2 separate regions of the Homo sapiens genome follow, and region 1 is linked to region 2. A link means that fine-mapping ties the variant in region 2 to the expression of a gene that starts in the linked region. Tissue or cell type: whole blood. Region 2 holds a variant in brackets; the other region holds the start of a gene. All regions are shown on one strand. Distances are from middle to middle.

What was found. PIP is the estimated chance that this variant, and not a neighbour inherited with it, causes the effect.
Region 1: it holds the start of DAB2IP, and the variant in region 2 is fine-mapped to the expression of DAB2IP in whole blood (TOPMed, PIP above 0.99).

Annotation. Positions count from the first base shown.
Region 1 is chr9:121,650,158-121,652,836 of GRCh38, forward strand. It overlaps DAB2IP (DAB2 interacting protein), which reads left to right and starts at 1,477. Exons shown (of 16, transcript NM_001395010.1): 1 at 1,477-1,742. The coding sequence starts at 1,619. RefSeq lists an enhancer at 1-54.
Region 2 is chr9:121,557,930-121,560,608 of GRCh38, forward strand. The region is part of intron 1 of LOC107987016 (a long non-coding RNA gene); the gene reads right to left. Among named protein-coding and RNA genes, the nearest start is that of GGTA1, 59 kb to the left of the region's middle. RefSeq lists an enhancer at 101-395. The variant C/A (reference allele first, on the strand shown) is at 1,254.

The DNA.
Region 1 (2,679 bases), 92 kb after region 2:
GTCCTCTTGGGCACCCTGGTTTTCCATCTTCCTGTGGGATTGGCCAGTATTCAGGGAAGAGGGGACCAGGGCAGCTGATAGCTCTGGACTCCTCAGACTGAGTTTGCTGGAGTAACACCCCTCCTGCCCCTCCCCCCTGGTCAGGGAAGGCGCCTGGCTTCCAGCTGTGAGACAGGCTCCGCAGGACTAGGGACCCTCCCCGCTGGCTGAGAGCGCTAGGGAGGGGGCTTCCCCTGTGAGGTGCAAAACCCGGCCTGGATTTCTGCCCAGACGGCCCCGCCCACTCCAGGGCCCCACCTTCCCCACTGTTCTGGAGGAAGATCCCCTAGCCGGCCTCAGGCACTTGCGGTGACTCACACCCCCCACCCCTAAGTCTGAATGTTGAGAGCCCCAGGCTAAGACCACTTGCCTCTGCCACTTTCCATGTGACTGAGGCAAGACCTCCTTGCCAAGGCCTCAGTTTCCCCCTCTGTACTTCAAAGGAGGCAGCTCAGGCAGGTGTCTTAATAATTTAAACGACGAATATTGCTAAAGAGATAAGGGGCGGGGAGAGAGAGAGATCACTGTGGGCCATGGTTAGGGAAGGGTGGAGGAGCTGGGTCCTGAAAGGGTGGACTTTGGTCGGGTGGAGAAAATAGCCAAGAAGGCAGTCCCTGCTGGCAGCACAGCAAAGAGAAGTGAGAATTAGGGGGAGCAGAGGTGAGGCTGGAGGGGACTTTGGTTGGGGCAAGATTATTTGGGGTCCAAATAACAAGGATGTTTAGACGTATTGCCATTGTGCTCTGGGGAGCCACGGAAAGCTCTTGAGCTGAGGAGTGACTTGGAGAAAGTTTTTCAGCCAATGCAATAGAGGGAGTTGGTACCTTTCCTTCTGCCACCCTGAGTTTCTGGTGCCTACGGTAGGGTAGGGATTGTTCTGCCCTGCCTTCAGTGCTTTGAGTGCTTGAAACAGACACCGTAATTTTAATTACATAAAAATGATACGTGTATCAGACGGGACAACCTTTAAAACGTAAAGAAGAGGCAAGTATCCTGCATCACAGGGGAGTCTTTCAACCTGGCTGGGCCAGGGCCTGCGGAGCAGTGAGGGTCGTTTCTCAGCCCAGCGAGCCTGGGGCAGGAACGGACCCTAATTGAAGGTGACCGTCCCCAAGCATGCGTCCTACCCCGGGCTCCGGAGAGCGCACAAGCAGGTGTGCACCGTCTACCCGCGCTGGCGGGATTGGGTGCCTGGTGCGCCCTCAGGTCGACGGTCGAACCCTCGGGGGCGGGGGTGGGAGCCAGAACCCTCGGGACGACCCGTCTGGGGTCCCGGGGAAACTCCGGGCCGCCTCGCCCCGCCGATTCCAGGCCGGGATTTCTCCCGCACTGACTTTCCGGGCCGGTGCCAGCCCGGCCTCCGGGTCCCCAGCCCCCGCCGCGGGGCCGGCTGCTCGGGGAGCGGGAGGGGGCAGGAGGCGGAGGAGGAGTTTGAGCGACTTTGTGGGGCAGCCAGGGCCTCGGCGGCCGCTCGGGCGAGCGCGGGAGAACGCGTGGGCGCCCGCCGGGCTGTCCGGAGCGGCCGATGGGGCCCGTGTGAGCGCGCCCAGGCCCGGCCCGGTGCCCGGCGGGCGGCAGCATGTCCGCGGGCGGCAGCGCCAGGAAGAGCACCGGGAGGTCCTCCTACTACTACCGGCTGCTGAGGCGGCCCCGGCTGCAGCGACAGAGGAGCCGCTCCCGCAGCCGGACCCGGCCTGCCAGGGGTAGGCGCCACCCCGACCCCTGACCCCTAGACCCTCCTAAGGCCACTAAGCCACCTGATGCCCTGGGATGCTAGGGACCGGGATCCTCCTTCCAGCCATTTGCCGGGGGTTTCCTCATCCGCCCCTTCCTGAGTCTGCCGGACCCCCCATTCCCCCAGCTTCTGCTTAGTCCTCCTCTCGCCGGGGGAAGCCGAGGCTCTAGGGTCTCCTCTTAAGCCAGGGACAGGGAGAGGGGAGCCTGGAATCTTTCTCCGCATCTCAGATCAGACCTCCTACCCCACTGTGCCTCAGTTTACTCAGCAGCCGGGCAATAAAGTAACCCAGGGTGGATCTGAGCTTTCCCACACCTTGCCTTCCCAGCCCAGGCCGCGGACTTCTTTCTTCCCTTTCCAGGAACTTAACGGGCTCCCCACCTCTTGGGTGCTAGGACAAGTGGGTGGACCTCAGGGAAGGAACCGTGACCCCTCGAGCGGGTGGGCGCCAGCTCCTTTGCAAAGTTTCTCTCCATCAAGCTCAGGAGGCAGGACGAGACGGAGGGGGAGGTGCGAGCAGCATTTTCTTTTTCCAGTAACAGGATCCTCGGCTGGAAATGCGTGTGATCCCGGGGGCTGCGTTTGGGCGGGTGGTGGCCGGGACTTCCTTCCCTGGCTGAGTAGGAGGGAGGGAAGCCCCTGGGAGGAGGAGGCCTTCAAAGGGGCTCTGGGGAGGCTGGAGTCCTAGGCAGAGGTTCAGGCCCACCGAGGGTGCCCGTGGGGTGGAAGGGAGGAGAAAGACGGCGCCTTAGCAGGGACCTGGGCCGAGTTGACACCATCAGGTTATCTTGAAAGTGGGAAGCCGGGCCCTGTGCCAACAAATGCCATGCAGGGAATCTGGTAGACCAAGAGGGGCCACATTCCCACCCTGCAGGCTGCCGTTGTGTGACCTGGGCTGAGCTGCC
Region 2 (2,679 bases):
ATTTATAGCTTGCCTTCTTTCCTGGAAAGGTTTGAGGTTGTTTAATAATTCCACCTCACATTTGTGCAGCACTAGGAGGAGGCCACAGGGCATTGTGGTTGAGAGTCTGGGCCCTGGAATCAGCTGTGTGTTGGGGGAGGGAGTGCCAAGTTATTTAACTTCCCCAGCCGCACCACAGCGGAGGACTCAAATTTCTAACCCAGCCCCAAAGCGTGGTGCCTGTCACATCCTCCCTCTGTGCGGCTGATTAGCCACTTCCTCCTCTGAGCCTGGGTTTCCTTGGGACAGTTGGGATTCCCTGAGAGGACGTGGGAACTCACGAGGACCCTAGGCAAGCACACACATGGGGCAGCTGGCTGTCTGTGGCCCCTGCTTGCCCTGGGGAGCCGATGACAGGGCCGCCGGCAATGCACCCTCGTCCCCTGGGGCTGGCTCAGAATTCCTAAGGCGGTGCCAACCCTTGGTTCAAGGCCTTTAGATGAGTCAAGAAAGCCTCTGTACAACAAACCCCTGTGACATGAGTTTACCCATATAACAAATCTGCGCCTAAAATAAAAGTTTGCAAAAATAATAATAAAGCAGAGACCACCGCCTCCCTAAATGCGGGGGCTGGAGAAGGACAGTTGTGGGAGGGGCCCGGGATGTAAGGTGAGACCACCAGGGAGCAGACCAAAGCCTGGCTCAGACATTCCCTCTTTGAAGGCCCCTTCCCACCTCCACACCTCCCTGCCACCCCCACCCAGACATACTTCTGCCCTCCTTGGCTAAGAGGCACTGGGTGTTTACTTGGGGCGAATAATGACTTCCTGTCAGGCGGACTCAAGCCCCAGCTCTGCTGCTTCTCAGCCCCTTGAACGCCTCTCAGCTTTCCTATCTGTGAAATGGGGCTCAGAAAACCTTTTTAGAAGGTTGATATATGAGGTGCATGGAGAGTACCAGGCCTCTCTGAGTACAAGACCCTCTGGTCTCCCTCCTCCCATTCTGGCCCCCGGGTACCAGCCCTGAATGAGAAGTGGGGAGGACCCAGTCCAACCAGAAAAGCATTAAGATGCAGGGAGAGCCAGGCGCGGTGGCTCACGCCTGTAATCCCAGCACTTGGGAGGCCGAGGTGGGTGGATCACTTGAGGTCAGGAGTTTGAGACCAGCTTGGCCAACATGGTGAAACCTTGGCTCTACTGAAAACACAAAAATTAGCTGGGTATGGTGGCCTGCACCTGTAATCCCAGTTACTTGGGAGGCCGAGGCAGGAGAAT[C/A]GCTTGAACCTGGGAGGTGAAGGTTGCAGTGAGCCGAGACTGTGCCACTGCACTCCAGCCTGGGTGACAGAGAAGGAACCCAGTACCTCAATAAGGGCTCCTGGATGGAGTGCATACAAGGCGAGAGGGAGTGGGGAAAAAAAAATAACAACTCAGCCAACGCTTAGTCATTCCACAGATACTTTTTTTTTTTCTTTTGAGCCAGGGTCTTGCTCTGTCACCCAGGCGGAAGTGCAATGGTGCAGTCATGGCTCACTGCAGCCTCAACACCCCAGGCTCAAGTGATCCTCCCACCTCAGCTTCCTGAGTAGCTGGATCTACAGGCGTGTACCACCAAGCCCGGCACATTTTTGTATTTTTTGTAGAGATGGGGTTTTGCCATATTGCCCAGGCTGGTCTTGAACTCCTGGGCTCAAGCGATCCACCTGCCTCAGCCTCCCAACGTGTTAGGGTTACAGGCATGAGCCACCACACCCGGCCAAATATTTTATTCAGTACATGTTTATTGGGGGCCCACTGTGCTGGGCACAGTTCTAGGTGCTGGGATACAGACTGGAGCTTCCATGAAAGTAGGGGCTGGAGAATGATACACAAATAAATATATAAATAATGTCAGGTGGGATCCGAAGGGCCAGGAAGAAAACTAAAGCCGGGACAGGGGCAGACAGAGCCATGGGAGAGGCAGGGATGCAGGGGTCATGATATCTTAGAGAGGGTAATCAGGGGAGCCTCTAAAGGAGGCAGCATATGGCCAGGACCTGAACACGGGGGAGGGGGCTCTCATCCCAAGCAGAAGAAATAGAGGGACCTGTAATCCCAGCATTTTGGGAGGTGGAGTTGAGCAGATCATCTGAGGTCAGGAGTTCCAGACCAGCCTGGCTAAAATGGTGAAACCCGTCTCTACTAAAAATATGAAAATTAGCCAGGCATGGCGGCACACACCTGTAATCCCAGCTACTCAGGAAGCTGAGGCAGGAGAATCACTTGAACTTGGGAGGCAGACGTTGCAGTGAGCTGAGGTCGGGCCACTGCACTCCAGCCTGGGTGACAGAGTAACACTCCATCTCAAAAAAAAAAAAAGAATAAGAAAAAAAGAAGAAATAGGGAAGCCCTGAGGTGAGATGCACCTGGCAGTGCAAAGAAAAACTGGGAGGCCCATGTGGTTGGGGGAGGGGGGAGAGGAAGAGGGAGAAAGGAAAAGGAGAGAAGGGAAAGGAGGAGAGAGGGAGGGAGACAAGGAGAGAGGGGAAAGAGATGGGAGGAGGGGGAGATGAGCTGGTGGGCAGATTTTGCAGGGCCTGGCAGGCTGTGCTATGGGCTATGGATTTTAGATTCACTGAGCACCTCCTCTGGTCCAACTTCTATTTTTTTTTTTTTTTTTTTTTTTTTTTGCGATGTAGTTTTGCTCTTGTTGGCCAGGCTGGAG